Homo sapiens: one gene and its partners. The protein of the gene in region 2 purifies or fractionates together with the protein of the main gene of each other region. This does not show direct contact. Each region holds a gene or a part of one and is shown on either strand. Other genes may lie near its edges.

The links.
Region 1: the proteins of ARHGAP11A (region 2) and SEPTIN2 purify together in Homo sapiens (affinity purification with mass spectrometry, with the first as the bait; one large-scale study listed by BioGRID). This does not show direct contact.
Region 3: the proteins of ARHGAP11A (region 2) and CPSF2 purify together in Homo sapiens (affinity purification with mass spectrometry, with the first as the bait; one large-scale study listed by BioGRID). This does not show direct contact.
Region 4: the proteins of ARHGAP11A (region 2) and RCL1 purify together in Homo sapiens (affinity purification with mass spectrometry; one large-scale study listed by BioGRID and IntAct). This does not show direct contact.
Region 5: the proteins of ARHGAP11A (region 2) and NSRP1 purify together in Homo sapiens (affinity purification with mass spectrometry; one large-scale study listed by BioGRID and IntAct). This does not show direct contact.
Region 6: the proteins of ARHGAP11A (region 2) and CALD1 purify together in Homo sapiens (affinity purification with mass spectrometry; one large-scale study listed by BioGRID and IntAct). This does not show direct contact.
Region 7: the proteins of ARHGAP11A (region 2) and PALM2AKAP2 purify together in Homo sapiens (affinity purification with mass spectrometry; one large-scale study listed by BioGRID and IntAct). This does not show direct contact.

The regions. Positions count from the first base shown.
Region 1 is NC_000002.12:241,336,065-241,340,556, reverse strand, and holds part of SEPTIN2 (septin-2), read right to left. Parts: coding exon 4,459-4,492; intron 3,176-4,458; coding exon 3,041-3,175; intron 2,885-3,040; coding exon 2,767-2,884; intron 1-2,766.
Region 2 is NC_000015.10:32,635,634-32,640,125, forward strand, and holds the end of ARHGAP11A (rho GTPase-activating protein 11A), read left to right. Parts: intron 1-143; coding exon 144-282; coding exon of another isoform or gene 283-305; exon of another isoform or gene 306-548; intron 549-623; coding exon 624-2,212; 3' UTR 2,213-4,308; downstream 4,309-4,492. UniProt on the Homo sapiens protein: GTPase activator for the Rho-type GTPases by converting them to an inactive GDP-bound state.
Region 3 is NC_000014.9:92,128,469-92,131,968, reverse strand, and holds part of CPSF2 (cleavage and polyadenylation specificity factor subunit 2), read right to left. Parts: intron 1,019-3,500; 5' UTR 985-1,018; coding exon 836-984; intron 1-835. UniProt on the Homo sapiens protein: Component of the cleavage and polyadenylation specificity factor (CPSF) complex that play a key role in pre-mRNA 3'-end formation, recognizing the AAUAAA signal sequence and interacting with poly(A) polymerase and other factors to bring about cleavage and poly(A) addition.
Region 4 is NC_000009.12:4,837,490-4,841,981, reverse strand, and holds part of RCL1 (RNA 3'-terminal phosphate cyclase-like protein), read right to left. Parts: intron 2,215-4,492; exon of another isoform or gene 2,123-2,214; intron 781-2,122; exon of another isoform or gene 777-780; coding exon of another isoform or gene 751-776; coding exon 625-750; intron 1-624. UniProt on the Homo sapiens protein: As part of the small subunit (SSU) processome, it plays a role in 40S-ribosomal-subunit biogenesis in the early pre-rRNA processing steps at sites A0, A1 and A2 that are required for proper maturation of the 18S RNA.
Region 5 is NC_000017.11:30,172,004-30,176,495, forward strand, and holds part of NSRP1 (nuclear speckle splicing regulatory protein 1), read left to right. Parts: intron 1-538; coding exon 539-595; intron 596-4,492. UniProt on the Homo sapiens protein: RNA-binding protein that mediates pre-mRNA alternative splicing regulation.
Region 6 is NC_000007.14:134,933,134-134,937,625, forward strand, and holds part of CALD1 (caldesmon), read left to right. Parts: coding exon 1-944; intron 945-2,554; coding exon 2,555-2,632; intron 2,633-4,492. UniProt on the Homo sapiens protein: Actin- and myosin-binding protein implicated in the regulation of actomyosin interactions in smooth muscle and nonmuscle cells (could act as a bridge between myosin and actin filaments).
Region 7 is NC_000009.12:110,153,681-110,158,172, forward strand, and holds part of PALM2AKAP2 (PALM2-AKAP2 protein isoform 3 (PALM2-AKAP2)), read left to right. Parts: exon of another isoform or gene 1-73; intron 74-1,399; exon of another isoform or gene 1,400-2,523; intron 2,524-2,638; coding exon 2,639-2,817; intron 2,818-4,492. UniProt on the Homo sapiens protein: Binds to regulatory subunit (RII) of protein kinase A. May be involved in establishing polarity in signaling systems or in integrating PKA-RII isoforms with downstream effectors to capture, amplify and focus diffuse, trans-cellular signals carried by cAMP.

The DNA of each region.
Region 1 (4,492 bases), on a different chromosome or scaffold from region 2:
ATTAGCATAAAAACGTCTACGCTTCCAGGGGTTCTTCAAAGGTTCAAATACTTTCTAAAAAACTGGCAGGCACTTGAGACAATTTAGGAAAAGGCTGCCAAACATGACTACATGCTGCTTAAAAATTGCTTTGGAAAAAAGCACCAAGAAAAATGTGAAAAAATGAAAGTCAAACCAGGTGAAATCATCTGCAACGTGATAGTCAACATCTAAAAATAAGTATATGTGTTAAGTCAATAAAAAAGCAAGAGCCAAGTCCCTGCAACCTGAGAGAATACACCAACCGGCATCAACACCAGCACAGATACTCACATCGGCAATCAAGGAAAGGCAAATTCAAATGAGATACAATTTCTCAGACAGGAAACACATTACAAAAACTGGCAACATAACCAGGACAGTTTTAGGGGGTGGAGAGAAGAGTACACTTTGGAAATGTAAATTGTTACAAACTTACTTTAGAGCAAATTTAGTCATCCTTCAAAAATTTAAATGTATACTTATTTCCTAAGAATTCGTTTGGCTCACACAATTGTGAAAAGATAGATGTACACCAGTGTTCATTACAACAATTATGCAACAAATCTATTATGTGCCAGACATTATTCGGAACTCTGGGAATACATAAGTGAACAAAGCAGATTCCTGATCTCAGGACCTGGGGTCAGGGGTCAGGAGAAGCCAAAAAACACGCTAGAGAAATACTTTATGCAGTGTGGGGGGAGTGCTACCAGCAGAGCAGGGGATGGAGATGTGAAATCTTGTGTGCAGCGTTGGGCTCAGTGAGGGAGTTCCCCACACAGGTATCTGAGGGAAGACTGTTCCAGGCAGAGGGTATCACTAGCAAAAGCAGCGAGCAAGGGGCAAAGAAACAGTAAATTTGGTCAAAGAAGAAAAGGGGCCAGAGTAAAACAAAAAGTAAGCCAAATATTCATCAGCAGGAAACTGGACAAGTTAGAGTATATTCATATGGTGGAATGCTGTGCATCCAGGAAGAATTAGGATACAGTATATATATGAGGATGCTTCCAAATATTTTTAAATAGAAAAATCAAATGGCAGAATAGTATTACTATGTGATTTCATTCTGCAAAACCAAAAACATAAGCTATGTTCTAGAAGGATATATACTTAACAGTTGTTCTTTCTGTGGGTAATTACAGAAATTCTTTTTTTTTTTTCTTGAGACGGAGTCTTGCTCTGTCACCCAGGCTGGACTGCAAACAACCTCTGCCTCCTGGGTTGAAGCGATTCTTTTGCTTCAGCCTCCTGAGTGGCTGGGACTACAGATGCCCGCCACCACGCCCGGCTAACTTTTGTAATTTTTTAGAGACGGAGTTTTGCCATGTTGGCCAGGCTGGTCTCGACCTCCTGACCTCTGGTGATGTGCCTGCCTCAGCCTTCCAAAGTGCAGGGATTACAGGCGTGAGCCACCACACTCGGCCTAGAAACTCTTTTATTTTAAAAAATATATGTATATTATATTTATATATATATAATATATAAAAATGTATATATAATATGTATATAAATATAATGTATAAATATAATATTTATATATATTTATAAATATATTTATATATTATATTTATAATATATATTATATATATAATATATATAATAAATATATGTACAATTATATATATTATATATAATATATATAATATATATTATAGATATATTAAATATATATATTTTTATATATATTATATATTTATTATATATATTATATATAAATAATATAAATATAATATGTATTATATATAAATAATATAAATATAATATATATAAACAATATAAATATATTACATATAAATAATATAATATATATAATATATTATATAAATAATATAAATATAATATATATTACATATGTAATATAAATAATATAGATATAATATATATGTAATATATATTATATATATTTATTAATTATATATTATATATATAAAATATATATATATATTTTTTTAGAGACAGCGTATTGCTATGTTGCTGAGGTTGGCCTCCAACTTCTGGGCTCAAGTGATCCTCCTGCCTGAACCCCCTGCTGTATCCCCCTACCCTGCCCCAGCAACTGTGATTACACGCACAGATCGGTATGTTCATTTAGGGATTTGTATTTTTATGCACGTACCGGTATGTTCAGTTAGGGATTTGTATTTTTAGAGTTTAGCATATATAAACTATTTGGACTTTCTTAAGGAGCATATAATCAGAACAAAGTAAGCAATTTAAAAATATATAGCAGAGAATCAATAAAGAGGCTTTACAGACATACACGGAAGAGGCACTAAAACTGGGACACCACAGGAGCTGCTGGCGGGTGAGAGGCGCTTCGCTGGCTGACAACTGCTATGTTTCCAAACAGAACAGAGAACCAGTCTACTTAGATACATCCTTGTATGGGTCATTTGCAGTAAAGAATTTAGGTAAAATAACAAACTTCATGGAGAGATCACATTTCTATATTTGAGTCATTTAACTCCCATGGAAGGTACTTGTGTGTAACCAACTGCTACTCATCGAGGGCATTTTAAATATAAGGAGAATTTAAAGAATAGAAATTTGATACCTTCATGAAGGCAAAAATTAAAATTTGTAACCATCAGGTTCTCCTTGAAAACCACCACTAAAATGCAGGAAAAATTCTCCCGCCCTGCCTCCCGACACCTGAGCAGACTGAGCGTGGGAACACACTCCTTTCTTCATCCCCATGCCCCCGAGTCGCACCCAGAGGGAGGGCAGGACGCCAGCCTCACTCACCCTTTTCTTCAGCCGCTCCCGTTCCTTCAGGGTGAGAGTGTCAGCTTTTGCAATGACAGGCACAATATTCACCTTGTTGTGTATTGCCTTCATAAACGCCACATCTAAGGGCTTAAGTCTAAAATTAATTTTAGAATTGTCACTTATTTAAAAAAAATACATACAAAACTCTTCTCTCTCAAATTATCTTAATTCTTATATTAAAATACACAGTTTGGGTAAAACTTACAAACCCATGTAGTAAAGCATTTCTCCACGATAAACAATTACTTACCCATGTCCAAAAGGTGAAATAAAGTAAAAGCAACAATGCACCCTATTATCAATGATGTGCCGCCTGTTCAAGCCGCTCTCGTCATGCAGGTACCTCTCAAATTGCTCATCAATATAGGAGATAATTGTCTTAAAACTGAGAGAAACAGAAACATTAACAATAATCATAGGGTATAAAACAGGGGGTCCCTGACTTCAAAGGGAAAACAAGTGCCTCCGCCCAAATATACATAATTTAATAATTCATTTTCAAGATGAGAACAGAAGACTGACTTTTAGATTTGGCAAATGGAAGTTTTTGGAAACTATGCCAAGCATAACTGCCCCTAAGTGCTGAGAGTCAAAAGCCTGAATGGAATAGGTTATGATGCACCTGAGAGAGGGCCAGTGTAGACAGGGCTGCCAATTCGTTCTTTTTTTTTTTGAGACTGAGTCTTGCACTGTTGCCCAGGCTGGAGTGCAGTGGCGTGATCTCGGCTCACTGCAACCTCTGCTTCCAGGGTTCAAGCGATTCTCCTGCCTCAGCCTCCCAAGTAGCTGGGATTATAGGCACACGCCACCACGCCCGGCTAATTTTTGTATTTTTAGTAGAGACAGGGTTTCACCATGTTGGCCAGGCTGGTCTCGAACTCCTGACCTTGTGATCAGCCCACCTCAGCCTCCCAAAGTGCTGGGATTACAGGCATGAGCCATCGCACCCAGCCAGGGCTGCCAATTCTTTTCAGGAACGTGACTGTGAAAAGGGGCAGAGGAACAGGGTGGTAGAGAACATGGGTCAAGAACAGGTTTATCTGAGCTGGGAAACAGCATTTAACTGAGCTGGGAAACAGTACAGCACTTTCACATGTAAGAAGGGAGAAATTCCTAAATGTAGGAGAAAGATAACAGAACCTTCCCCTTTTCATCTAGTGGTGGAAACCTGATGCTTTATGTTGACAGGAATAGAACCAGGAGGGAGTTTGTACAACAAAAGTGGCATTCTTTGCACGGTACAGGTGACAGACTGCTCTATCTTCTACTTCTTCATTTCCTTATTTGTGAAAATGATGCCAATGAGCAGTCATTTACAGACACTACGACTCAACCCACTCTCTAACAGGTTTCACTTCCTTCCACATAGAAAGGATGTACTACAGTATCTCGGTCACCAACCACGGCTCAAATCCAGGTGTTTCATTTATACTAGCAGTCTATGGATGACTGGCTTTGCGATCTCAAATTACAGTAGAGTACCAGAAAAAAATTACTCTCTATAAAATTCCTTATTTAAAAAGTCAACATTTAACACGCTTTAAATTGTCTAGGTGTTTTATTATATACAGCAATCCCAAACTTAATAATCACTCATTAACACTATCTATAAATTTATGAAGTATATTAAGTAAACAAATGCAGATCCCTGGGCATGGGGGAGCATACCAATCTCTGCAGTTGATAGCGTCACCATAGCCAG
Region 2 (4,492 bases):
GTCATTGTTAAGAATTGTTTCTCAATTATATATCCCTTTTTAAATCAGCTAAAGATTTTGATAACTACAAAAAATTATTCTGTCTTTATATTTTGAATTAACTAGGCTTATTTCTTAACTAAAACTTTTTTTTTTCTGTACAGAATGGATGTTCTGGTGTCAATAGATATGAAAGTGTTGGTTGGCGACTTGCAAATCAACAAAGTTTAAAAAATCGAATTGAATCTGTAAAAACAGGTTTGCTTTTTAGCCCAGATGTTGATGAAAAGTTACCAAAGAAAGGTACATTTACATACTACTGTTAGAGTTTTACCTAAAAATCCTGCTTTAGTTGCTTTTTTAATGGCAAAACATATTAATTAATTTACTGTTCTAGAGATTAAAAGTTCATGTTTGAATAGTGAAAATATTAGAATTGGCAATGTATTTTTCTATCAACAATTGGGAAATGCTTATACATGTAAATATGAAAATGTTTGACATTCTTATGTTAAAAATTATTTCTTGTAACACAAATACTTTATTAGAATTAAATGCTTAGTGACTTATTTGCCATGTGCTTGGGTATTATTTCAAAACAAGGTTAAATACAAAGGATTAAGCACTGAACTGCTTTATTTTAGGTTCAGAAAAGATCAGTAAGTCTGAGGAAACCTTACTAACTCCAGAGCGACTAGTTGGAACAAATTACCGGATGTCTTGGACAGGACCTAATAATTCAAGTTTTCAAGAAGTAGATGCAAATGAAGCTTCTTCAATGGTGGAAAATCTTGAGGTAGAAAACTCTTTGGAGCCTGATATTATGGTAGAAAAGTCACCTGCTACTTCATGTGAACTCACCCCTTCCAATTTAAACAATAAGCATAATAGCAACATAACAAGTAGCCCTCTTAGCGGGGATGAAAATAACATGACCAAAGAGACTTTGGTGAAAGTTCAAAAAGCGTTTTCTGAATCTGGAAGTAATCTTCACGCATTGATGAATCAGAGGCAGTCATCAGTAACTAATGTGGGGAAAGTAAAATTAACTGAACCATCTTATTTAGAAGATAGCCCAGAGGAAAATCTATTTGAAACTAATGATTTGACTATAGTAGAATCAAAGGAGAAATATGAACACCACACTGGTAAAGGTGAAAAATGTTTTTCAGAGAGGGACTTTTCACCCCTTCAAACTCAAACATTTAATAGAGAAACAACTATAAAATGTTATTCAACTCAGATGAAGATGGAACATGAAAAAGACATTCATTCAAATATGCCAAAAGATTATTTAAGCAAGCAAGAATTCTCCAGTGATGAAGAAATAAAGAAACAGCAGTCCCCAAAGGATAAACTAAATAATAAATTAAAAGAGAATGAGAATATGATGGAAGGTAACTTACCGAAGTGTGCAGCACATAGCAAGGACGAGGCTAGATCCTCTTTCTCACAGCAGAGTACATGTGTTGTAACAAACTTGTCAAAACCTAGGCCTATGAGAATTGCTAAACAGCAGTCATTGGAAACATGTGAGAAAACAGTTTCTGAAAGTTCACAAATGACAGAACATAGAAAGGTTTCTGATCACATACAGTGGTTTAACAAGCTTTCTTTAAATGAACCAAATAGAATAAAAGTCAAGTCACCTCTTAAGTTTCAGCGTACTCCTGTTCGTCAGTCCGTCAGAAGAATTAATTCTTTGTTGGAGTATAGCAGACAACCTACAGGGCATAAGTTGGCGAGTCTTGGTGATACAGCTTCTCCTTTGGTCAAATCAGTGAGCTGTGACGGTGCTCTTTCCTCTTGTATAGAAAGTGCATCAAAAGATTCCTCTGTTTCATGTATCAAATCAGGTCCTAAAGAACAGAAGTCCATGTCATGTGAAGAGTCAAATATTGGTGCAATTTCAAAGTCAAGCATGGAGTTACCCTCGAAATCTTTCTTAAAGATGAGGAAGCACCCAGATTCAGTGAATGCTTCTCTTAGGTCTACTACAGTTTATAAACAGAAGATCTTATCTGATGGCCAAGTTAAGGTTCCCTTGGATGATCTGACTAATCATGATATAGTAAAACCAGTTGTAAATAACAACATGGGCATTTCTTCTGGGATAAATAACAGGGTCCTTAGGAGACCATCAGAAAGAGGAAGGGCCTGGTACAAAGGTTCTCCAAAACATCCTATCGGAAAAACTCAATTACTACCAACAAGTAAACCTGTAGATTTGTAATTGGTAAATGTTATACTTGTCATTAATGTAAATAAAGTGAGTAATTGGTATGACTTGCAGGATGATGTACATGTTAGTTTGTAGCTCAGGATGATTGTTAAGCAATAGATTTGCTCTATTGAAAATGTTTCATTTTTTTCACTGTACAAGCAACTTAGATTTTTATTTGTACAAATTACTTCTTTGTTTTTCTTAATGATGGCAATTTTTAAACTTTAATTTTATTGTGATCTCTTAAAGCAGAGGTTAGACTTTACCTTTCTGACTCTGTCGTCCAGGCTGGAGTGCAGTGGCGCAATCTCACTGCAAGCTCCACTTCCTGGGTTCATGCCATTTTCCTGCCTCAGCCTCCCGAGTAGCTGGGACTACAGGTGCCCGCCACCACGCCCAGCTAATTTTTTGTATTTTTAGTAGAGACGGTTTCACCGTGTTAGCCAGGATGGTCTCGATCTCCTGACGTTGTGATCCGCCCGCCTCAGCCTCCCAAAGTGCTGGGATTACAGGCATGAGCCACCACGCCCGGCTAGACTTTACCTTTCTAAAGAAATTGTTTACTGGATTTATAAGAAGTTAATTTTTGAAAATGACATATTTTTGTGTGATAGAAAGAATGGAGCAAGTTGTGCCTATTTCCTCCAAGTCAGATAAGGTTTCTAAAATAAATAAATTTCTAGCATATAAAGGGTAGAGATAAACTCTGCAAATCTTATGTCTGGAATTATATTAATGTTTATTGTCCTTGCCAAAATTCCTAGAAATTAATTTCCTTCAATAGCATCCTAAAACTCTATTTTTATTTGGGGCAGAGTAATTTCATTTATAGTGCCAGTAGGTGTACCTTGTGTTCACTCGAACTAAGAACAATGGTTAAGGCAGAATAATGACTAAAATATGTTCATATATTATGATGTGGAAATAATTGATAACTTTTAAGCCATACTATGTTTTTAAAGATAATTTGCACAAACACGTTTGTGTCTGTTCTGTCCAATATAGATTTGGCAATTATTTAAAGAGGGATAATCTTGAAAAAAATTAACCAAGGTGATTTCTTATATGTAGATGCTCGATTTTGGAATTTGAAATAGTAGATGCACCTCTTTACCTTTTTTACTTGGATAAAAACCTATGATGATTTTGTCCTGTGTGTAAATGTTATTTATTTAGCATAGACATTAAAGATAACTCTCTGGAAAATGACTTGACTAAGGCTCTCATGAAATTCAAAGTGCCATTTAGAACATGCACCAAATTGTCAAGTAAATCTGTCTAAATTTATATTTTAAATTATTACAAATTACACATCTTTGAGGAAAGAGTATTATGAACAATAGAACATATTCTCTAGGTTGTAGAGGAAGGAATAAGCAGACAGAATCAACCACTAAAGGTAGTTTTTCAGATTGGTTGTTAGAATGTCATGTTTAGATGTTGGAGCAGATTAGAGCAGCATTCATGCCACTCGGAGCAACCAGACTTACAGCATAAGTATGTACGAGGAATTTCAAATCATCAGATGTTTGCTTGGCTAGGTTCTACTTTGTTTATTTGATATCAAATAGGTTTGTAGATGTTTATGGCATTTCTAATTGTAAGTAGAGACAAAATATTCATATAGTCAGATATATGTTGTCTGCTTTAAACAATTTTTAAATTTTAAAAATGCATTAACGTCTTTTTATATCCATCAAGGGAAGGATGAAATGTTGAATTTGAAGACTAATTCAGTAAGAAGTCCTAGGGGTTTAACTGTACATACTACCTGAACTGGCTTTTCTGAGAGATGAATCAATAATGAAACATGTCTGTTTTAAAAACTACCACATGTGACTCCTATTTTTGTTAGCTGAAAGCTGCTATACGGAGTATTACAGGAATGTGAAGGTGACTAGCTTGAAGGTAGGGTAACTAGAGAGCCAGAAAAGTTTTGTTTTAAACTTGATTTAATGCGTTTTTATTTTTTCTTATACAAAATAGAGATAATGTTGCTAACTTCATGGAATATTTGAGGAAATGATATGAAAGTGTCTGGACGTGCAGTAACCTCATGGGTTCTTCTCACTGTCTTATAAATGTAAATAAAGATCTAATATTAATTTGGTTATCTAATAACAACTTAATACATAGAACTTAGTAGACTGCATGGCCACATTCTATAATATGATCACTAAGAACTTAATGTAGGATTTTAATAGTCATGTTTTTCTTAATTGTGGCAGAATTTAAACCTTAATTTTGTGATCTTTTTTAGTTAGTTTGTTTTTTGTTTTCTTTTCTTTT
Region 3 (3,500 bases), on a different chromosome or scaffold from region 2:
AATTAATAAAATGGTTTGGATTTTTTTTCTCAAGTTCTAAAGTTTTTTAAATATTTAAGTCCTCTTTTCTTGCAAAATTAGTATAATACTGCAAACATCATTGACTTTTTATTTTATCTTATTTTTTTTTTGAAACAGAGTCTTGCTTTGCGCCCAGGCTGGAGTGTAGTGGTACGATCTCGGCTCAGTGCAATCTCTGCCTCCTGGGTTCAAGCAATTCTCCTGCCTCAGCCTCCCAAGTAGCTGGGATTATAGGTGCACACCATCACACCCGGCTAATTTTTGTATTTTTAGTAGAGTTGGAGTTTCACCATGTTGGCCAGGCTGGTCTCGAACTCCTGAACTCAAGTGATCTGCCCACCTCAGCCTCCTAAAGTACTGGGATTGCCAGCGTGAGCCACTGTGCCCAGCCCATAATTGATTTTTTTTTTGATGAATCAGTATCTCATGGTCATTCTGAGAACCAGCTGACAATGTTAAGCATCAAAAGATGTAGAAAGTAAGCTAATGTGATCTGACCACAGAACTTTCACATGGAAAATGTTTCCTCTTCTCAAATTCTTATGTATTCTTGTTCTTTCCAAAAATTAGCATGCAAAAGTTTCTACTGAAATCCATTAGCTTAAGATTTTGCTGAATTTCAACAAGCAAAGCTTATAAGTCAATCAAAACTTTACAAGTTAAAATGTCACTATAGGTTTTTGGCATAAGTAAAATTAAGCCTTTTGCTATAAACTAGTGTAAAAAGGCAGTATTTATCACATCGAAATGGTATTACAGTACAGAAAAGAGAAGTTGATTTAATAAAAACATAGAATTATGAAATGTAACTTACTTCCTCAGGGAATCAATAATATCCATAGAAAAGTGCTCATCCCAGCCACAGTCCAATAAAAATCTAAACTCATCAACTTGGAGAAGATAGCAAAGGGCAGATTCTTCTTGGACCCCAGAAAGGGTAGTTAATTTGATAATAGACGTCATTTTTTTTGGTCCAGAAACAGCAAGCTAGAAGAGTCTTTCAAATGAAATGAAAACATAATTAAACATAAAAGCACAGTCTGGCATATATAATAAACAAATTGATTAAAATTATTTCAAATCTTTAAGTGCATAGAAATTCCATTAACACGAAAAGCAGTTTAAAGGCCCATTTCCATCATTGCCAAGTTTACTTTTTTTTTTTAAGTGAAAGCAAGTTTATTAAGTCACTGCCAAGTTTAAAAGCACAAAGATAATCTTAGACACAATGAGCCCTTTAGTGGCTCCCTAGTGGGGTAGTGAATGTTGCAATCAAATAGACCCATATATGAATCTACTTCTATGTGATTTGAAGCAAGTTAATTAAACTTTCCTCACCTATGTATCTCAGTCTATAAAACATTAGTATTAGTATACATGTAAAAACAATGTTGAAGTATTTCAAATAATGTATAAATTACCTATAACAGATACTACTGCATCCAAGTTCCTCAATAAATAAATGTTTAGGAATTAATGAACTCATCCTTCAAGGTGAATCTCTTCCTCTTTTATCTTGCTTTGTGATGGCACTGATTTCACTGTATTACAATGATTAGTTTACATGTCTTTCTCTCCCATTAATTAGACCAGTGGTCCTTAAATAGATCCCCTTGAGAATCTGATAAAAACCTATGGACCCTCCCCCTCCCCCACCAACTCTCAACACACTCAAACAAAAAACAAGAGTACATATACACGTAGAAATTCACAAACTTTTCAGGGAGTTTAACATTAAGAACCCTTGCATTGGAATGTGAGCAACTGAAAAACATAGGTGGCATATGTTTGCAACTCCCTAAATAGAACCTGATGCACGCTTCAACATATATCTGATGAAATGCAAATTGGGATGCCTACTACATATATTTCAGGAAAATATAACATGAACACATCTACAGGCCAGGCACGGTGGCTCACGCCTGTGATCCCAGCACTTTGGGAAGCCGAGGCAGGAAGACTGCTAGAGTTCAGGAGTTTGAGACCAGCCTAGGCAATGTAGTGAGACCCTGTCTCTACAAAAAAAAAATATAAGAAAACTGGCTGGTGGCATGTACCTGTAGTCCTAGCTACTCAGAAGGCCAAGATGAGAGAATTGCTTGAGCCCAGGAGTCCGAGGTTACTGTGAGCTATGAGTGCGCCACTAGACTGGGCACAGAGTGAGACCCTAGAGTGTACCCTAGACTGGGCAACAAAGTGAGACTTTGTATCTAAAAAATAAATAAAATAAAATATATACATTTTTTAAAAATGGGATTTAGAACCTGGAACTGTGTGCTATTAAGCAGAAGTTATGAAAATATTCATTAGCAAAGTTCAACTCCACAGCAACATTTCAGATTTTAGCTCCCTAAAATAAATGAGCTTTTCCTGGCTAACTATGCAAGTAGGAGAGAAGGCCACCGAGTTACCTAATAATTTCTTACCACTACTCAAGGCCATCAACAAACTAAGGTAAACTGAATATCCACCTTTCATAAGAGGCTGACAGGGGCTGCTAAACCCACCACATCTCCCAGCCTTGTTTATCTGAGTGACAGCCAAAATCACAAGACTGCTAGGTTATCAATTATCAACGATGTGTACGTCTCCCAGTAAGACCTAATCCCCTACCTCTTCTCCCTCTCAAATCCTTTCAGGATGCTCTCTGGAACTGTGATCATACTCACCTGTAACTGCAACTGCTTCTCTGAAAATTCTCTTCACCTGCTTGTCTTCCCAGGTACCTGGCTGTTCCCTCATCATACTCTTCCTCTTACGGCCTTCTCAAGGTTTTTTGTTGTTGTTGTTTTAACTTCTTGTACCCCCTGTACTTGAAAAGCAGGAGGTATGTGTTCCTTGCTCCTCACTGCAGCTTCTAAACCATGTCTTCTCTTTCCTCTTTCAAATAGTCTAGTCCCATTAAAGCTCTTGCCACCCAGCAGTTCACTATTAGTCTTCCACATTTCCTCTTCACTATGGCATCTATTCACCTGGCCTCATTCACTGAGGACTTTTACATGACCCGTTGTTCCTCTCAGTAACTTCAATACTGACCTGTTGGTTCCTTGACTTCCTCAACTCCAATAATCATTTCACTTCAGCCACCCACCACTACGATTACACCCTAGACCTTATCACTACCAGTAACTGTTCTACTTTCAAAATTTCACTTCAAGCATCTCATTCTCTAACACCTTACTTACTCTAGTATTCCCATTGCAAAAATCCTCTGGGGTCAGTGGTATCTCTCTAATTCGCTGACTACTTTTTCCCTATCCATGACCCCCTCCTGTTTTTACTCAGGTCCTCACCTTCAATTCATGATCTGTTAACATTATTTGCAAACACTCAAATGTCTTGCTCCTCTAGGTACTTCTCTCTACTAGGCTGGCAAAACCCCAGTCCTGATTAACTCCAATCATGCAGGGCCGGCGGGGGGATGGGATATGGAGGAGAATTACAGCTGTGCTATTTGCTTTTTTTTGAGACGGAGTCTC
Region 4 (4,492 bases), on a different chromosome or scaffold from region 2:
TTTAATTGCTTCTCTAACTTCCTAGTTGCTAAATACACAAGCAAAGCCTAAAACAGGTATCTTCATTACATAGAGCATCATTTTTTAAGAACTTATTTTCCTTACTTAGAATTTTTTTCTAATTTTTAAAATTTTTATTTTTTAGCAAAGCAAAGGCTTTCACTAAACCAAATTCACGTCTGCAATAACAACTTTCTCTGGATGTAAATATGTTGTTTCCACTGATGAAGAGAGATGCTGACTTACACTTAGATAACAAAAGATTTTAACCCTATACTGTTATTTACTCAGGGTGGAAGAACCTGTCCACTTTAATTTTTTTGTTGGAACAGAGTGCAGATGGAATTTAAAGCCTAAAGCATTGTGTATTAATAGATAAAGGTTTTAATTCCCCAAGGCTAGGAACCAGACCCTTAGCTTCCAGCTCTAGCCACTGGGATGCTTTCCATGTGACAGGCACTCAAGAAATGCCTGTTGGTGACAACGGCAATAAGGCAGAAAGAAATTAATTCTGAAATTGTTCTTCCTCTGGCTGCGCAACCTCAGAGCTGGCAGTTTTAACTTCAACTAGAACAGGCATGTGAAAAAGCTGCAGAAACAGACTTCAAAAACACAGATACTTACTTCCCAGAGTTGACTCCTTTCATGTGATCTGTGTAAATATAGATATCAGGTATGAACTTGTTGAGGATGCTCCTTGCAGAATCCACAATCCGGTTCGCCATCTGAGGTGACACACGTACAGAGTACCTGCAGCCTGGAGTTAAGGATGTCATTCTGCTTGAATTCCAGGACAGAGAAAAATCAGTTATAAAGCTGGCAAGTATTTGTGGAACTGTAGTAACAAACTGGGACTTCCAAATCTATTGTTTTCCAACTGAATTTACTGAATTAGTACCATAATTAAATTTTTTTCATTATTATAAAAGGTCATGGCAAAAACACCCAAACAATAGAGACAGTGGAAAGTATAAAGCTGGAGGTCCTCAACCCCACCCCCTGACTTCCTACCCACACGCTTCCCCTAGAAATGGTTCAAGTCAATTTTGGAAGGTGTAAAGACACCTGCCTCTCTGCGGGTCATGATCCAGGCTCCCTCTGAAGCACAACACCTAAGAACACTTTCTATTCTCTGTCCATTCCCACTGCTGTAGCCAATGAGTCTCTCTCTTAAGAACCTAAGCCCAGAACAGACACCACACAGGACCTGGGCGATCCCAATCTGACTCCTGGTATGCTGATGGGAGAAGCAGAAAAAGTTCAGTGAAAGAACATGGTTGCTGCTATTTATAAATATATAAAAAGGTTTTTCTCATTTACAGGGCCTATTTTCTACTATTTAAGAATTAATTACTCCACTTGTGGATAACACAGCCTCCTCACACCTGCTACCTTATGGTTAAAATATTGATAATTAGCACTCCTACAATAGGGCACCCCAGAAAAGAAAGGAGGAAGATATTAGTAACTCAAGTGAAAAGATTGGTGCTTGAGGAAATGGAAATTATTGCCTAAAACTAGACTTTATAACAGAAGCTGGCATTCCCCAACCACACATGTCAAAGAAAAAGTAAGTATGTATTGAGCACTTCAATGTGCAATGTATGGTCAAGAGATGGCTATATATTTGGAACTAAAAAAATGGAGAAATAACATGTGACCTTCCCACTACCCTGATACAAACCCCACGTGACAAGTCCAACAGGTAGAACGAGGTATATAATCTGCCCAATCCAGCCCAATGTTCAAGAACTGCTGACAATAACATATTTAATTTTCATCTGAACTGCAGAAACAAAGTGCTCAGAGACGATACATGACCTGATCTGGTATCTAGCTCCCTTTTTTGACCCATCCTGAACTTCATACTAAAAGACCAATCTTCCTCATGCTGGTGACAGTCTCTCGGTGGCTCCTGGTCCTCCCATATCTTGTTGTTAGAGCCCCCAGCCTGCTCAGTTGTGTCCATCTTCAGCTCTGCACCATCAACTCCTTCCACCCATCCAAACTGACCAAATTCCTCAACCTGAGCTGCTTTGCCCCATTCTCCCAGCCCGAGGTCCCAATCTCTCTCCTGAAACCCTCCAGCCGGCACCCAAGTGTTAGCTCCACTTGAACTTACCATACATCTCTCTTCACATATGCACATTTTGTTCTTGCTCTTCAATGAGACCACACACTCTATAAGGGCAAGGGCTTTACCTCTGTAATCCCTCCCAACTCTCCAATACACCACTTTTGTACTCAGAAATGCTCAATAAATATTTAACTTGACTCAAAGGACAAACCTGAAATGAGGAAAGAGCAAAGAGGGATTTTTCAATACACACACAGCCCAGTTACATCACCATCTCTTCAGTCCAGAATGTACTTTTGACCACAGACAGCTTAGACAAACAGTCCTGAATCTCATACCCTTTGGACCAAGCAGGTGCTGTCCTTCTGAGGTCTGAGGCTGCCCACTGTCCCCAGGAAAGCACAAGAGATGTCACCATCCTAGCACATAATCCCACAGAGCTCACGGCTCCCAAAGTTCTTTCACATCTATTATCACCTTACTTTATGCTCACAGTAACCCTGTGTTGAGGGCCATGGCTCCGAGTTCTAGGACTTACATTAAAGACAACTAAGACAAAAAAACTAAGACACTTGCTCAAAATTAAACAGATCTGACTCCCAAAAAGCATCTTCCTCCTCTCACCCATCCCAATACAAAAACACGAAGGTTAACAAACAGTACGAATTCAGGGCCTACAGAATCCTATACTAGAACTCAGGCAATGAAATGAAGAAGGCAAAGGAACTTTAAAGCCAGTTGCTTAGAACCATCTGGCTTGGCATGGATGTCCTACTAAGGAATGGCTAACAGCCCCCAAGTTCTAGAATCAGATTATCTCCGTTCAAGTCCAAGCTCCAGCAAGCTGCATCACTCCAGGTTAATTGTGGTAACTTCTCTGTGCTGTCATTTCCTAATCAGTAAAAGAAGGATAATCATAACACTTTCCTCACAGAGTTTGGAGGCACAAATGAAATAAAATGCATGTAAAGCTCTTAATGCCTAGTGTGTAGTAGGAGCCCAACAAATGTCAGCTATTGCTTTTCTTTATTACTTATCCAAGATTCAAATCCCAAGCAGAGGTTCTTATTCTTTCAAGAATCAGAGAACTCTCTGAGAATCTGATGAAAGCTATGGACCCTCTCCTGAGAAACATATATACTCACAATCTTGCAGAAAATTTTTCAGGTTTATGAACCTCCTAAAGCCCATTTATGAAAACCATATTAAGAACCAATACCAATGTACAAGTCCATAGCTACAGTCCATATGGGACTCCCACTCTTCCCCTTCCCCAATGTTCCATGTCAGAGAAAGCTAAGAGGGGTGTGTGTGTGTATGTTACAGTAGGTGGAGAGAGAGCTTGATTCTCAAAGTACCTTTCCTACAGTCAAGGAAAAGAAACTAGATTATCCCACGAATTCCAACTTATCCCCCTTTACTGCCAGCTTTTTCACTTAATTCTCATGTACCAAATCATGAGCTCCTAGGACAGCACTGCAAAACTAAAACAGAATGTTCCTTTCTCTTACGCCCCACATAAGGCAGGGGTGAGAAAGAGTGGGTGGCATTAAGTAAAAGGTAACTACTGTGTAGTCACAGCTGCTGGCAGGAACCAACACCAGCTCCCTCTGGGCCCTGGCTGGTAGGTCATCTTGTAGAACGCAAGAGGGAAAAGATGCACTTTGGAAGTAATTCAGTTAAAACCACAAATGCACACAAGAGAGTGGGCCTCTTTCTCCCAGTCTGAGCCCTCCCATGGGAAATACAACCTCCAAGCTTAGTCCAGTAGTCAACCAGCCTTGCAAGGAAAAAAACCACAAAACCAACTCAAGCTTTTTCCAAAGGCAGCTCTTTTTTCCCAGGCTCCAAAACTGGAGAAGAGGGCGATCTCCATTCAAACCAACATTCCTTTGAGGTGTTTGTGAAATGGGCAGCTCTGCAGAGCAGTGGCTGAAATGTTTGGTTAACAGACAGGGATCTGAGAAAGGGCACTGTGTCAACTCTCCTGGGGAGCCAGGAGGAAGCCTCAACCAGTCAGAGATATATTGGGGATGATTTCCATGTCCTATCCCCTGCCTCCAGGGAGGGAGGAACTTGGGACCTCACAAGTCTCTTCCTGGCTCAGATTCTACACAGGGAAGGTTCCAAGAACATTAGAGGGAGAAGCCAGGGAGGAACATAGTTACACCCAAGGTGCCCGGCACTACAGCTCTTTTAACTTTTATGTTCTCCCCTGGAAAGCCCTTCCCCATTTCCCAGCATCATCATCAAAGGACACGACCATCTGCACACCCAGAGAGAACAAGGGGGACCCCACTGTGATGAAACCCATGTTGTTATGACAAGATTGTGTCAAAACAGAGCACACTGCCAGAAATCACATTTCCAGACTACAGAGACTGGATTCCAAACAAAGTTCACGGCCGCCAATAC
Region 5 (4,492 bases), on a different chromosome or scaffold from region 2:
TCTCTCTCTCTCACATGTTCACATGAAGCAAATTGAAATCTGTAAAGGTTGAATGACAGTAGTGAATTTAGGACTAAAAATTCATGTTTACTCATCTTTTCCTGTACCATTCTATTTTCTCTGATACCTTATAATCTATTCTGAGGATTTACAATGCAAATTCATTTATTTCCTGAAGTTTAGGGAAAAAACCCTGAAAATGTTAGTTTAATTTGTATTATTATCTTTTTACTTTTAACTATAAGTAAGGCACCATTGCCAACCAGAAAACAGGTTGAGCATCCCAAATCTGAAAATCAAAAATCCTAAATGTTCTAAAATCTAAAACTTTTTTGAGCACTAATGTGAAGCTCAAATGAAATGCTCATTGGAGCATCAGATATCAGATCTTCAGATTTGGGGTGCTGAACCAGTAAGTATTTTAAAAATCTGAAATACAAAACACTTCTGGTCCCATGTATTTTAGATAGGGGACGCTCGTACTGGAAAAGAAATTTTAAATTTGTTTAAAAAGTGACAATATATTTCTGTTTTACAGACCTCTGTGAGTGAAAGCCTTCAGAGGGAAGCTGCTAAGAAGCAGGCCATGAAACAGGTAAGGTAGAAGACTGGGATAAGTGCATTCAGTGAAGCATTCCGGCTCATTTTTAAGCATCAGTTTTGGTATCTAGGTGCTGAGACTAAAACAGAATAGATTTAAGGAAAAACACAATGAAGAATTAGCTCCTTATTGCTGTGCTATAGATTAAACCAGTTCTGCTTGTAGATGACTCATTAGTCTAATAATGGATTGTTTGGCCTGTTGTTATTATTAAATTCTTGCTAGTGAGCTTACTTGCAGGGAAAAAAAAAACCTTTTCACAACCAAAATGGTTTCACAAACTTATAATTATTTGAAACTCATCTGCCCAGAAAGAAGAATATCAGAGATAGATACAAATATATAGATATATAGATATATAGATTTTTTTTTTTTTTGAGATTGAGTCTTGCTCTGTTGCCCAGGCTGGAGTGCCGTGGTGCACTCTCGGCTCACTGCAGTCTCCATCTCCTGGGTTCAGGCAATTCTCCTGCTTCAGCCTCCCGAGTAGCTGGGACTAAAGGCGCATGCCACCATGCCCAGCTAATTTTTATATTTTTAGTAGAGACGGGGTTTCACCGTGTTGGTCAGGCTGGTCTGGAACCCGTGACCTCAGGTGATCCGCCAACCTCAGCCTCCTGAAGTGCTGGGATTACAGGCGTGAGCCACCGTGCGCGGCCTGATAATTTTTAAAAGACGTGCTTGTTTCCAAGTGCTTTTTACATACATTTATCTTTTACAGTTCTCACAAACTTGCCCATAGTACTGATTAAGAAATCTGAAACTCAAAAAGGATAAAGTGCTCCTTAAGATCATACTATTAATTATCGAACTAGGCCTGAAGGTTTACTAATTTTTCTGCTATTGTAGACTAGTATATCTTAGATTTTCTGCTATAGAATGTAATGAAATTAAACAATAGCGAGGTGCCTTTGTTTTTCATTTTGAATTATTTATCCTCTCCATTAGCTTTATAATTTTTGGTCCTATTTCCTCTTTGTCTAACTGGAAACCTGCATAAAGATAAGTTTATTAAGCACTTTCTATGTGCCAGGCATCATGACAACTATGTTTTAAGAATGATCTTTAATTCTTACAATAATTCTATGAGATAGATGCTTTTATAATCCTTATTTTATAGTTAAGGAAATGAAGGCAAGAAGAATTTATGTGACTTGCATGAGACCACATAGTTAATAAATGGTAGGGCTGTGTTCAAAACTAGACAGTGAAACCTCAGAACCTAGGCTTTTAACCACTGTGTTTCACACCCTCCCGGACGAATTGGCACAGAAGGATATATTTAGTCATTTTAAGATAATGTCAGAGTTTCACAGTGAAATATAATGTGTAACTCAGCAGCCTCAGAATGATTTAATATACACATAAAACATAAAAAACAGTGATTATTTAACATAAATACTGGAGTGCTTTGAGTCAGAATTTTGGAGATACCATTAAGTTCAACTTCCTCACTATATAAATGGGAGACTTAGTTCTGGAGAGTTGGGTAACTTATCCAAGGTAATACAGGTATCTTGTTTTCCAGGATTATTTTAACATTTTTGTGCTGCCTTTTTTTCTTCACTTAAAGCATGAATCCCAAATCTGATTTTATTCTTAACTCTGTCTTGTTCAAGCCACTTTATCTGTTTAGTGGGACTTTTTGTAGTTTGCTTGGAAATTAGGAATGCTGCTACAACTCTTACACCTTTCACCTGCTTTCTGCTGATTTTTTCTCGCACCTATATTACATACTTTTCCCTTTGTTCCCCACTTGATTGATTCAGCTCATCGAATGTCTTTATCCATACGAATTGAAATTATTTTTCATTTTACTATGAAGAATACTAGCTTGATTGCATTTACTAAATCTTAGAGAAAATGCTTTTTAAAATGGGGTACTTTAAACTATTTTTTTCTTCTATGTGGACCTCAAGTTTACAGAACTGATGATGGCAACATTATTGTCATATTCCGTTTCATTGGGAAAACTTTCAGTATGTCATCAGTAAATAAAACATTTGCTGTAGGTCTCTGATAGATATTTGTTGCTAATCTAAGGAAATTATTTTCTTAGTTGGAGGGTTTTGTTGTTTGTTTATTTGTTTAAATGGTGAACTACATACAAAAAGGATACTGCTTCATGACCATGTTGGTTTTATACCAATAATGTAAAGTCAGCTTAACTTTAGAAAATCAATCATTGTAACTTCACATAAGTGGTATAAACTTAACATAAGCATAAAATGTTATCATTTTCATATATTGTTGCATTTGGCTTACTAAAGCTTCATTAAGAGTTTTTAAGTATTGAAGATTTTTGCATCATAAGTGAGACTGGGCAGAATAGGATGGTTTCCTTTTCTTTCGCTGCAATTATCTAGATTGAAAAAGTCTGATAATACCAAGGTTTGGCGAGCCTTATACAATGAGCTAATATGATACTATATACATTTTGTTTGTTTCTACTTCATTTTCTGTCCTGACAGATCAGTGTGTTCTTCATTCTGTTTTCTTTGGGTTTATTTTGTTATTTTTCTAACTTTTTGAGATTGCTGCATAGCTCTGTTTTCTGTTCTCTTTTCTAATATATGCATTTAAGGCTATATGTTTCCCTCTAAGTACTTCTGTAGCTGTATCTTACAGATTTTGATAGGCAGTATTTTTGTTGTTTCATGCAAAACATTTTCTGATTTGCATTATGATTTCTTGTTTGACCCATCTATTATTAATTTCTGAACATAACGGAGGTTTTTGATTACCTTTTTGTTATTCATTCCTAATGTGATTACTTTGGTTTTTTGCTTGTTTGTTTTTTGGGGTTTTTTGTTTTGTTTTGTTTTGTTTTGTTTTTGTTTTTGTTTTTGAGATGGAGTCTTGCTCTGTACCTAGGCTGGAGTGCAGCGGCACGATCTCAGCTCACTGCAACCTCCACCTCCTGGATTCAAGCGATTTTTCTGCCTTAGCCTCCTGATAGCTGGGATTTCAGGTGTGCATCACCACACCTGGCTAATTTTTATATTTTTAGATGGCCAGGCGCTCTCTTCACCTCAGGAGATCCGCCCGTCTTCGCCCCCCAAAGTGTTGGGATTACAGGCATGAGTTGCCACACCCAGTCCCTAACATGATTATTTTGGATTCCAAGACACTGCACTGTATTGTTTCATTCCTTTAAAACCTGTAGAGGTTTACTTTATGGTCCAGTATATAGTCAGTTTTTATAAATATTTCCTCTGTGTTTGAAAATGTTCTGTATTGATACAAAAATTAGCCGGGCATGGTGGTGTGCACCTGTAGTCCCAGCTACTCAGGAGGCTGAGGCAGGAGAGTCACTTGAACACAGGAGGTGGAGGTTGCAGTGAGCCAAGATGGTGCCACTGCACTCCAGGCTAGGCAACAGAGCAAGACTCCGAACCCCCCCCCCAAAAAAAAAGAAAAAAGAAAATGTTCTCTATGTGTCCATTGGGCCAGTTGTGTTAATCCATATATATTCATACTGTTTTTTTTTGTTGTTGTTGTTGTTTTGTTTTGTTTTGTTTTGTTTTGTCTGTTCTGTTACTGAGAGGCATATGTTAAATCTCCCACTGTGATTATGGATTTGTCTATTTTTCCTTGAATATCTGTTCAATTTTTGCTTTATTTATGTTGCAACATAGTTAATAGTAACATATCTACTCAAGTGCTCCCCTACAGCTCTCCTCCCAACATATACAAAGGCATGTCATCAGTTTAAAACAGCCCTGGCCGGGTGCAGTGGCTCATGCATGTAATCCCTGTACTTTGGAAGGCCAAGGTGGGTAGATCACGAGGTCAGGAGTTCGAGAACAGCTTGACCAACATAGTGAAACTCCGTCTCTACTAAAAATACAAAAAATTAGCCAGGCATGGTAGCAGGTGCCTGTAATCCTA
Region 6 (4,492 bases), on a different chromosome or scaffold from region 2:
ACCCAACAATAACAGATGCAAGTCTGTCGCTCCCAAGCAGAAGAATGCAAAATGACACAGCAGAAAATGAAACTACCGAGAAGGAAGAAAAAAGTGAAAGTCGCCAAGAAAGATACGAGATAGAGGAAACAGAAACAGTCACCAAGTCCTACCAGAAGAATGATTGGAGGGATGCTGAAGAAAACAAGAAAGAAGACAAGGAAAAGGAGGAGGAGGAAGAGGAGAAGCCAAAGCGAGGGAGCATTGGAGAAAATCAGGTAGAGGTGATGGTGGAAGAGAAAACAACTGAAAGCCAGGAGGAAACAGTGGTAATGTCATTAAAAAATGGGCAGATCAGTTCAGAAGAGCCTAAACAAGAGGAGGAGAGGGAACAAGGTTCAGATGAGATTTCCCATCATGAAAAGATGGAAGAGGAAGACAAGGAAAGAGCTGAGGCAGAGAGGGCAAGGTTGGAAGCAGAAGAAAGAGAAAGAATTAAAGCCGAGCAAGACAAAAAGATAGCAGATGAACGAGCAAGAATTGAAGCAGAAGAAAAAGCAGCTGCCCAAGAAAGAGAAAGGAGAGAGGCAGAAGAGAGGGAAAGGATGAGGGAGGAAGAGAAAAGGGCAGCAGAGGAGAGGCAGAGGATAAAGGAGGAAGAGAAAAGGGCAGCAGAGGAGAGGCAGAGGATAAAGGAGGAAGAGAAAAGGGCAGCAGAGGAGAGGCAGAGGATAAAAGAGGAAGAGAAAAGGGCAGCAGAGGAGAGGCAAAGGGCCAGGGCAGAGGAGGAAGAGAAGGCTAAGGTAGAAGAGCAGAAACGTAACAAGCAGCTAGAAGAGAAAAAACATGCCATGCAAGAGACAAAGATAAAAGGGGAAAAGGTAGAACAGAAAATAGAAGGGAAATGGGTAAATGAAAAGAAAGCACAAGAAGATAAACTTCAGACAGCTGTCCTAAAGAAACAGGTACAGTAAACATTTTGCACCAAATGTGTGATGCCTGTGACTTGTGAGAAATGTAATGCACATCTGATTTGGGACTGAGGCCACATGCATATAGCTCACATGCTTGATCATTTGGCAAGCTGTTCATTTTTTCAGGCCATAGCGATACACAAGCATGCAGCAATTGATTGATGGCTGAATATTCAATCAACCAAATTTACTGGGACAGCCAGTAAATTTGGCTGTCCAGAAGACAGAGAGAAATTAATTGCTCTGTGCTTGATTGTTATGAATACCCAAAAAAAGAATTAATCCAAAGATGATAAATGTGGTGGTGGTGTGTTGGCTTCTGATTCTGTGCTTGCATCTAAACTCGTTCTTTTAATTATCTTTCCTCTATCCATAGGTCTGCATGAGGCAAGAGGCCCATAACTCCTTACCTCACTCATGGGTTTGACGTTGAATTAAAAAAATGATAAAAGCTGGGGTGGGAAAGAGACATGAAGAATAATGGTCAGACATTTCATCTTAAGAAGGCAAAAACAGGCTGGGTACAGTGGCTCACACCTGTAATCCCAGCACTTTGGGAGGCTGAGGTGGGTGGATCACAAGGTCAGGAGATCGAGACCATCCTGGCCAACATGGTGAAACCCCATCTCTACTAAAAATACAAAATTAGCTGGGTGTACCGGCACATGTCTGTAATCCCAGCTACTCAGGAGGCTGAGGCAGGAGAATCACTTGAACCTGGGAGGCAGAGGTTGCAATGAGCTGAGATTGTGCCACTGCACTCCACTGGGCAACAGGGAGAGACTCCATCTCAACAACAAAAACAACAACAACAACAAAAAGGCAAAAACAAACCCCTGGAAATTAACTGGTAATAAAGAGGGGGAAAGGAACTGGTTGGAAACTTTCCTTAAAAAAAAAAGTCAAAACCCTGATTTGCCAACATGTAGACCTCAGCTTAATGTAGACTTGCAGAAAGCCATTAATTTAGGGTAGTATTGATTTATATTTGACTGGTAATTAAGAGCATACATGCTGCTTCTTTATTATCTGGGTGACACAAATTCATGTGGCCTGAGGAAGGGTGGAAATAGTAGGGGGGAAATGTTTGTAAGCTTTGAGAAAGATTTTTTTTCTGTCTGCAAGACTGCATTGAAAGCACTGTACCTAATCACCACCACACCACCACCACCACTCCTAAAAAAAGAAAAAAAGAGATGCTTTCACATTCACCTTTCCAGAGCAAATTCTCTGTCACTAAGCCTGCATTGCACTGAAGGTATCTTTAACTCCTGCTTCTGTACAAGAGGCTCATGAACACAGCTAAAATTGAGACCATGAGCAAAGTGCACCAAACCACACACGAGGTTTGTAAACACACGAGGAGTGCCACATCATGCTAGATTTCAGTGAGCGCAATGGCAGGCACACGAGAAGATGTTGGGGTGGGAAGAAAATATCCCACCTTGCTGTTTAGAACCACTGTGCTGTGAGCGCTGAGACGGCAGAAGAGAAGCCATCCCACGCAGCACTTGCAAGGCGATCCGAGCACCCTGTCACTCTTGTAAACTAGAAAGGGCTTCTTTTACTTGTGTGACCTTACCATTCTTGAAAATAAAAAGGGAGAAGAGAAGGGAACTAAAGTGCAAGCTAAAAGAGAAAAGCTCCAAGAAGACAAGCCTACCTTCAAAAAAGAAGAGGTAAATATGATTGAAAAGTAATGATCGTAAAGCAACAGAAAAAGCAGTCAGTGTTCCAAGATATCTCAGGTCTGATGATCTCAAAATTGTAACCTCATATCCAGTGTATTTCAAGCCATGACTCACAGTCCACTGAATAGTGAGATCAGCTTAGAGTGTCTCAAAATTAATTAAATGTATCAGTCAGCATTTTTTAAAAAATGAAATGGATAGAAGCCATCAGAGGGCATTGTAGGTAGTAAGTATTGCATTGTCAGGTAAATTGTCTTTTTTTCTGTGGGACGTCATCAAAAAGGCTTGAAAAACACTGCTGGAATCAATTTATCCTGTTTTCTATTCTTCTGAATGCTAATTTTTTTTCCTTGAGCCATTCTACTTTCATTTCAATCATGAAATATTTCCAACTGGCCTTGATTAATGCTTTAACTTTTCAAAGGAAAAACACCCACACACATCTCAGTAGAAAATATGGTGAACTGAAGATGATATTTGGTTTTCAAAAGAAAAGTTTGGCCAAATGTTCTGCATTGCATTTCTGAGGCACACACAGGAGCGGGTGCCAGGGTATTTGACTGTAGGTAAGTGAACAAGGAGCTATACAGATAGAATGGCACGGGGTTTGACAGTAATCAGAACACCACATCAGAACACTTGATTGCACTTCAACTCTCATGCTGTGTTTGCCCCAAATAATCTTAAAAATTGTGACTATATCGAATAAGTTCACAATACTTATTAGGATGTGGTGAAACTGAATTATTTGAAGTAGGAAGACCCGAAGTTCTTCGCCTATGAGACTGGTGAAGTGATTTGTAGCCAACATGCTCCAACCCATCTATTAAGAAAACTATGGCATCTATTAAGAAAATTCAAAATCTTAAACAGAGAAATCCATATTTAGAAAACATGGCCAGATTAAATAGGGGGTGGGTTATTTTCTTAAATACGTTTTGTCAATTTCACGTGAAAAATGAAAACCCCTAGTTCATGTTACATATTACATTTCTGTTAAGATGTATGTTCCTCTGTTTCTAATAGAAGTTGTGGTGGTTTGGAAGTGAAAATTGAATGTGAGCACAGGCCATGTAAAGGAAGGAGAAAGTGTAAATGTTAATAACAGGAAAACTGAATTTAGCTCTCATGAGGCAGTCAAGGAAATCATTCATTGAACATGTTGGGAAATACTTTTCATTTGGTGACCAAATACCTACAAATTCATTTACAAAAAAGAAAAATGAAAGTTACCTCAGAACTAAACTCAGAAATATGTCCCACATGGGTTCTTGTAATGTTTCTTGGTGAATGTCTTTATAGAAAGAAGTGGGCATGAAATGATGACTCAGTAATTAAACACATGGGGGAAGGGAGGCTGTAGAAAACACTGGATTCTATATTTAAAATTTCATTCAGTTCACTAATTTGTTTTTACTGACCAAAGCTTTCTATACCTATGTAGAGTGTCTGAGAACTAGAAGGGCCCATCAGTTGCCACTCGGATGATCCTTTTGTCTCTTTTCAGATAAGGCCCCAGTTCAACAGCGTCCTCTGTGTCAATCAGATACTCCCAGGAATGAGTGAGCCCTGCCGTTTTCCCAAGTTGCCCCTCAGCACATTCCAGCCAGTTCCAAAACTTTTGGCTTGTTTTTGACACAAGGCCAGATAAGCTACTCAAACTGGTTTTTTTAAAAAAAGAAAACAACCCCAATCTATATTCCTTTTTTAATACTGTGTACATAACCTGCTGCTCGAAAGACTAGGTTTTCCCCTTTCCAGCTAGTTGTGTTGTTTCTTTATGTAGACAGCTTTAAATCATGTTTACATGATTCAGCCATTTTAAACAACCTCTTCCTATTTTTTTTT
Region 7 (4,492 bases), on a different chromosome or scaffold from region 2:
GCAATGATCAGACAGGCAAGGCTCTACCCTAATGGAGTTTGCATTCAAATGAATTAAGGGGATTCATAGACAGGTGAAACATACCCCCCTGTCCTCAGGATGACATTATAGCTTAATTGAGAAGACAAAAGCTTCAATAGCCAGATAAGATTTAAGTCAGTATGTGAAAATGGCCTTCACAGAAATATAAACAGGAGTTCCACTGTGCTGTGTGTGAAAGGGAGAAGCTAGAAGCAATGAATATAGGCTGTGCTTTCTAGGTGTTTAACTCTGGAAGAGTGGCTGGTGGGAAGTGATCTGGACACTTGAGAGGTCAACTGGAAAATGATGAAAATTAACCTGGTAATTGGTGTCTATTTCTGGTCCCAGAAGAGATGCAAAAATTTTATGCAGAATATGCATGAAATTGTTCATCTCACCCTATAGTCACATTATTCTTTGAGATTCCAATTAAGTGGTAGCTAGAATCATTAGATGCTTTCTGTTCTGAATATTAACCTTATAAATATTAACTTTGTCCTCATAATAACTATCTGAGGGTAGGTACCCTTATCATCATACCCATTTTACTGATGAGGAAACTAAGATATCAAAAGAGTAAGTAACTTGCCCAAAGTGATTTGGCTGCCAAGTCATGGATTCAAGCCCAAACCGGCTGGCTCCAGAGCTTACACGCTCACCACTGTGCTATATTGTTTCTTAAGCCTTCAATTAAAAAGTCAATCGGAATTTTCAGAGATACATACTAAGTGTGCAGGAGTGAGGTGACCTGAGGTCTGGGATTGGTTTAAAATAATTCAGCAAGTCTAAGGAAGGAAGGAAGAGCCAATTATGCTAAAATCTTGATAAATGTTTACTCTGGGTGATGTTTATAATGTTTATAGGGGTCATTATAGCATTCCCTAATTTCCGTAATAAAAAATAGGAACTGTTTCTAGTGAACTTGGAGATTTTGAAATACTTATTATTGTACTGTTAATATCAAAAGACTTTTCAGTTATCTGGGTAATTTAGATCAAAGCAACAAATTTCACTGTTATTAATGTAATGTGGCCATGAAATGCAGTGCCCTTTTCTGTATATTAAAACCTATTTTCCACCTAATCCCCAAGTGTAACAGCTAAATACCTTAAAAAAAATCAAGAAGGGTGTATCCTGCCAAACATATTTGATAGAATAGCAAAACGTTTGAGTTAGAAGAGACCACAAAGATAACTTCTTCCAAAATTCCCATTTAACCGCTATGGCAGTTAAAGCTAGGAGAATTTAAGTGATCAGCCCACGATTGAAATGGGAATATGAAACGATGATCTATAGTCAGTCACGTAGCCAAGTACTGGAAGAGCAGGAGTTAAAAACCTGGGTTTCCTGGACTCCAGGCCTTTGTATCTCTCATCAGAAGGAGGTTGTGCCAGTAAAGGGCTAAGCAGCCCATATGGAAATGTGGACACCAGGCTTCACTTGTGATTCCTGCTACATCAGGCAGTTGCCAAGTTAGAAGCCTGGGATGTAAGATGAAGAAAGGTGAGTCCCCTTCGGCTTGGAACTGGAAGAGGTCAAATGGCCCTTTCCCCTCCCAAACGGAGCCATGCAAGCCCCATTTATCTTGTGTGTTTTATCCACATTCCTTGTTCACAGGTTTTAGCCGCATCAACCACAAAGGGCATAATTGGAAAAATCATAATTGTTATACTTGAAGATACTTCTCAGAAGTGCATTTGGGGCTCTGTGTCAATAAACCCACCCCATGAAGGGCCAGAAGCCAGGGCCAGGCATTTCTTGGGAGGGAGGGATGGAAATGGTCTTGGTGAGGGTGCGTAGAGTCACCACACCACTGTTGAATTAATCACTGACCTCATCTCTCCATCCTGAGGATTCTTGGAGGACATTGCGAGAGCTAAAATCTCCTCATTCCCAAGGCTGGTGTGCACCTTTTCCATTGCCTTTGTTGGTGTACACTTCTTAAGGTCTGGGAGGCCTCAAACCCCAATGTTTCAGGACCCCAGCAGGTGAGGTAAATGAATAAAGCTGGCCAGTGTAAGACCGGGGCAAACTGAGAAGAACAAACTTCATCCTTATTCAAAGGTTTTATAACACTGGGCTGTCTGCACAAAAAGCCTGGGCAGGTCAGCAGACAATTGACTTCCTCTGCTATAGAGGATAGACCCTGGTGAGGAAAGCAGGAGGCCTGGGTACCATCACTGGCTCCCTATGACTTGAGTACAGCCTTCCCTTGGCAGAGCCTCAAGCGCTTTCATCTGTTAAGAAGTGGGTCTGTGAGTCTCCAAGGTGCCACCACCTCTGACAGTCTAATTCTGTGATCTGTGATAGAATACATATCTCAAAACAACTGGAGCCACTGTCGGTCTGTCCAACATATATTTGCAAAATGCGTGCTGTGCCTGTTTGATCTAACTGACTTTTTGGAACTTGGTGTCCTTGAGATCTTTGGATGGGTTTGTGCATTAACCTTAAGTGCTTTGATCCCTGTAATATAATAAAATGGCCTACACTTAACCATCATTCTGGTACCACTCTCTGTGTCAGAGGTTGTTGCTCTTTTATTTGCCAGTTTTCTTTCTAAAAGCAGTCATGAGCAGACAAGCTTAGAAAGGGTATTTTCTTCGTGTTGTTTCAGGGAAAATAGAGAAAGTCAAACCTCCTCCATCCCCCACCACTGAAGGCCCCAGCTTGCAGCCTGACTTAGCCCCTGAAGAGGCTGCCGGAACCCAGCGGCCCAAGAATCTGATGCAGACCCTCATGGAAGACTATGAGACACACAAATCTAAAAGGCGCGAGAGAATGGATGATAGTAGTGTAAGTTTTTCCTCCTTTCCTCTTTCACTTCTCTGAGCGCGGCCATCGGTGTGGCGTGTGGCATTCCAGTTCAGGCACAAATGTGTATGTCGTTGTCTGGTCAGCATTAGGGTTCCAGTATCAGTTTTCATATATGTGGTTTCACATGCCTGGAACTGGGTTTGGGTTTTTGCCTGTTTCAAAAAAAAATTGTTGATCTTGCAGGGAGCTGGTCCTTTGCTGCCAAGTATAGCTGGAGTCGACCAGCAAGGCTAGTGTGTAAGATGTTTGGTGCATAGAAAGACAGCATGCAAGGGCCACGCAGGGAGAAGGTTGCAAGTGCCCTGAAATCATCCCTATGCACCTGGGAGCTGATTTCTACCATTGCCCAGTAGAGATTTTATTTCTCTAGAAAAGGATGAAGATGCTGTTCCTTCAAAGCCGACACTCTAGGCAATCCCTAACAATGTTACAGTGCTTAAAAGACTGAGTGTGTTTGGGGCTGTTAACAAGCCCATGTGCATAGCTTGAAAGCAAAGAGCCAGTGAAAATGACAGTTGAAAACCACATGGCTACTCTGCTACACCCAAGCCCTCGGAACTTTGCACATAACGTTCAAATTAACTGTGAAGGAAGTCACATGCTCTGTGGTTTCTTTCTCCGGTTAGAGACATAGGAACTGTTGCTCTACACAGTCCCAGGAGCCTGGAGATCAGCCTCAGGGTTCATGCCAACCTCCTGTGGGTCTTCTGGCACCAGTCTCTTAGCACATATTGAAGTCATCACCTCCTCCCCTGACTGCACTTAAGTCACAGATAGCTTGGGTTGGTTGAGGATCCTACTGAGTTTACCTGAGACAGTCCTGGCTTATGCCTGTTGTGGTGTTGTGGTTATTAATATCCCCTTCAACTCTTTTGTTGTTGTTGTTGTTGTTGTTGTTGAGACAGGGTCTGTCTCTGTCACCCAGGCTGGAATGCATTGATGTAATCATGGCTCATTGCAGCCTCGACCTCCTGGGTTCAGGCAATCCTCCCGCCTCAGCCTCCTGAATAGCTGGGACCACACGCGTATGCCACCATACCTGGCTTATTTTTTAACTTTTTTGTAGAAAGGAGGTCTCATTATGTTGCTCAGACTGTTCTTCAACTCCTGAGCTCAAGGGATACTCCCACCCCAGCCTCCTAAAGTGCTGGGATTACAGACATGAGCCACTGCACCCAGCCTGCCTTTCACTCTTGAAAGTGTCCCAGTTTGGGTGATAAACCATCTGGTCACCTTAAACTTGAATGCTATGAAGTTCACAGTAAGAATTCCCTGCTGTTTTATTGCCTTTTATATCCTAGCTGGCTAAGTTAAAGGATTTCTGGAGTTGAAGCCCAGATGCTGAAAGTTGCTTTCAAAATATATGGCGGTAAAGAAAGGAAGAAAGCAAATGGATATCTGGCAGCCTGGCTTCTCACTTGGCATCTCCCAGGCTTTCCCTTTTGTTTACACCTGAACTGCGTGGAGCACTGGCTCAGCTGCTGTATTAGGCTGCAGCTATTCTACTGGGCTCTTCACTGTATTAGACAGTGGGATGATGCCCGGCCCTGGGTAGCTGCTGCAGACATTTCCACTGCTGAACCTCACTGTAGGGGAGCCAGCAGCTCCTTTCGTGAGCCTGCAGGATTTTTCCCTGGCTACTCAGTCACTTTCA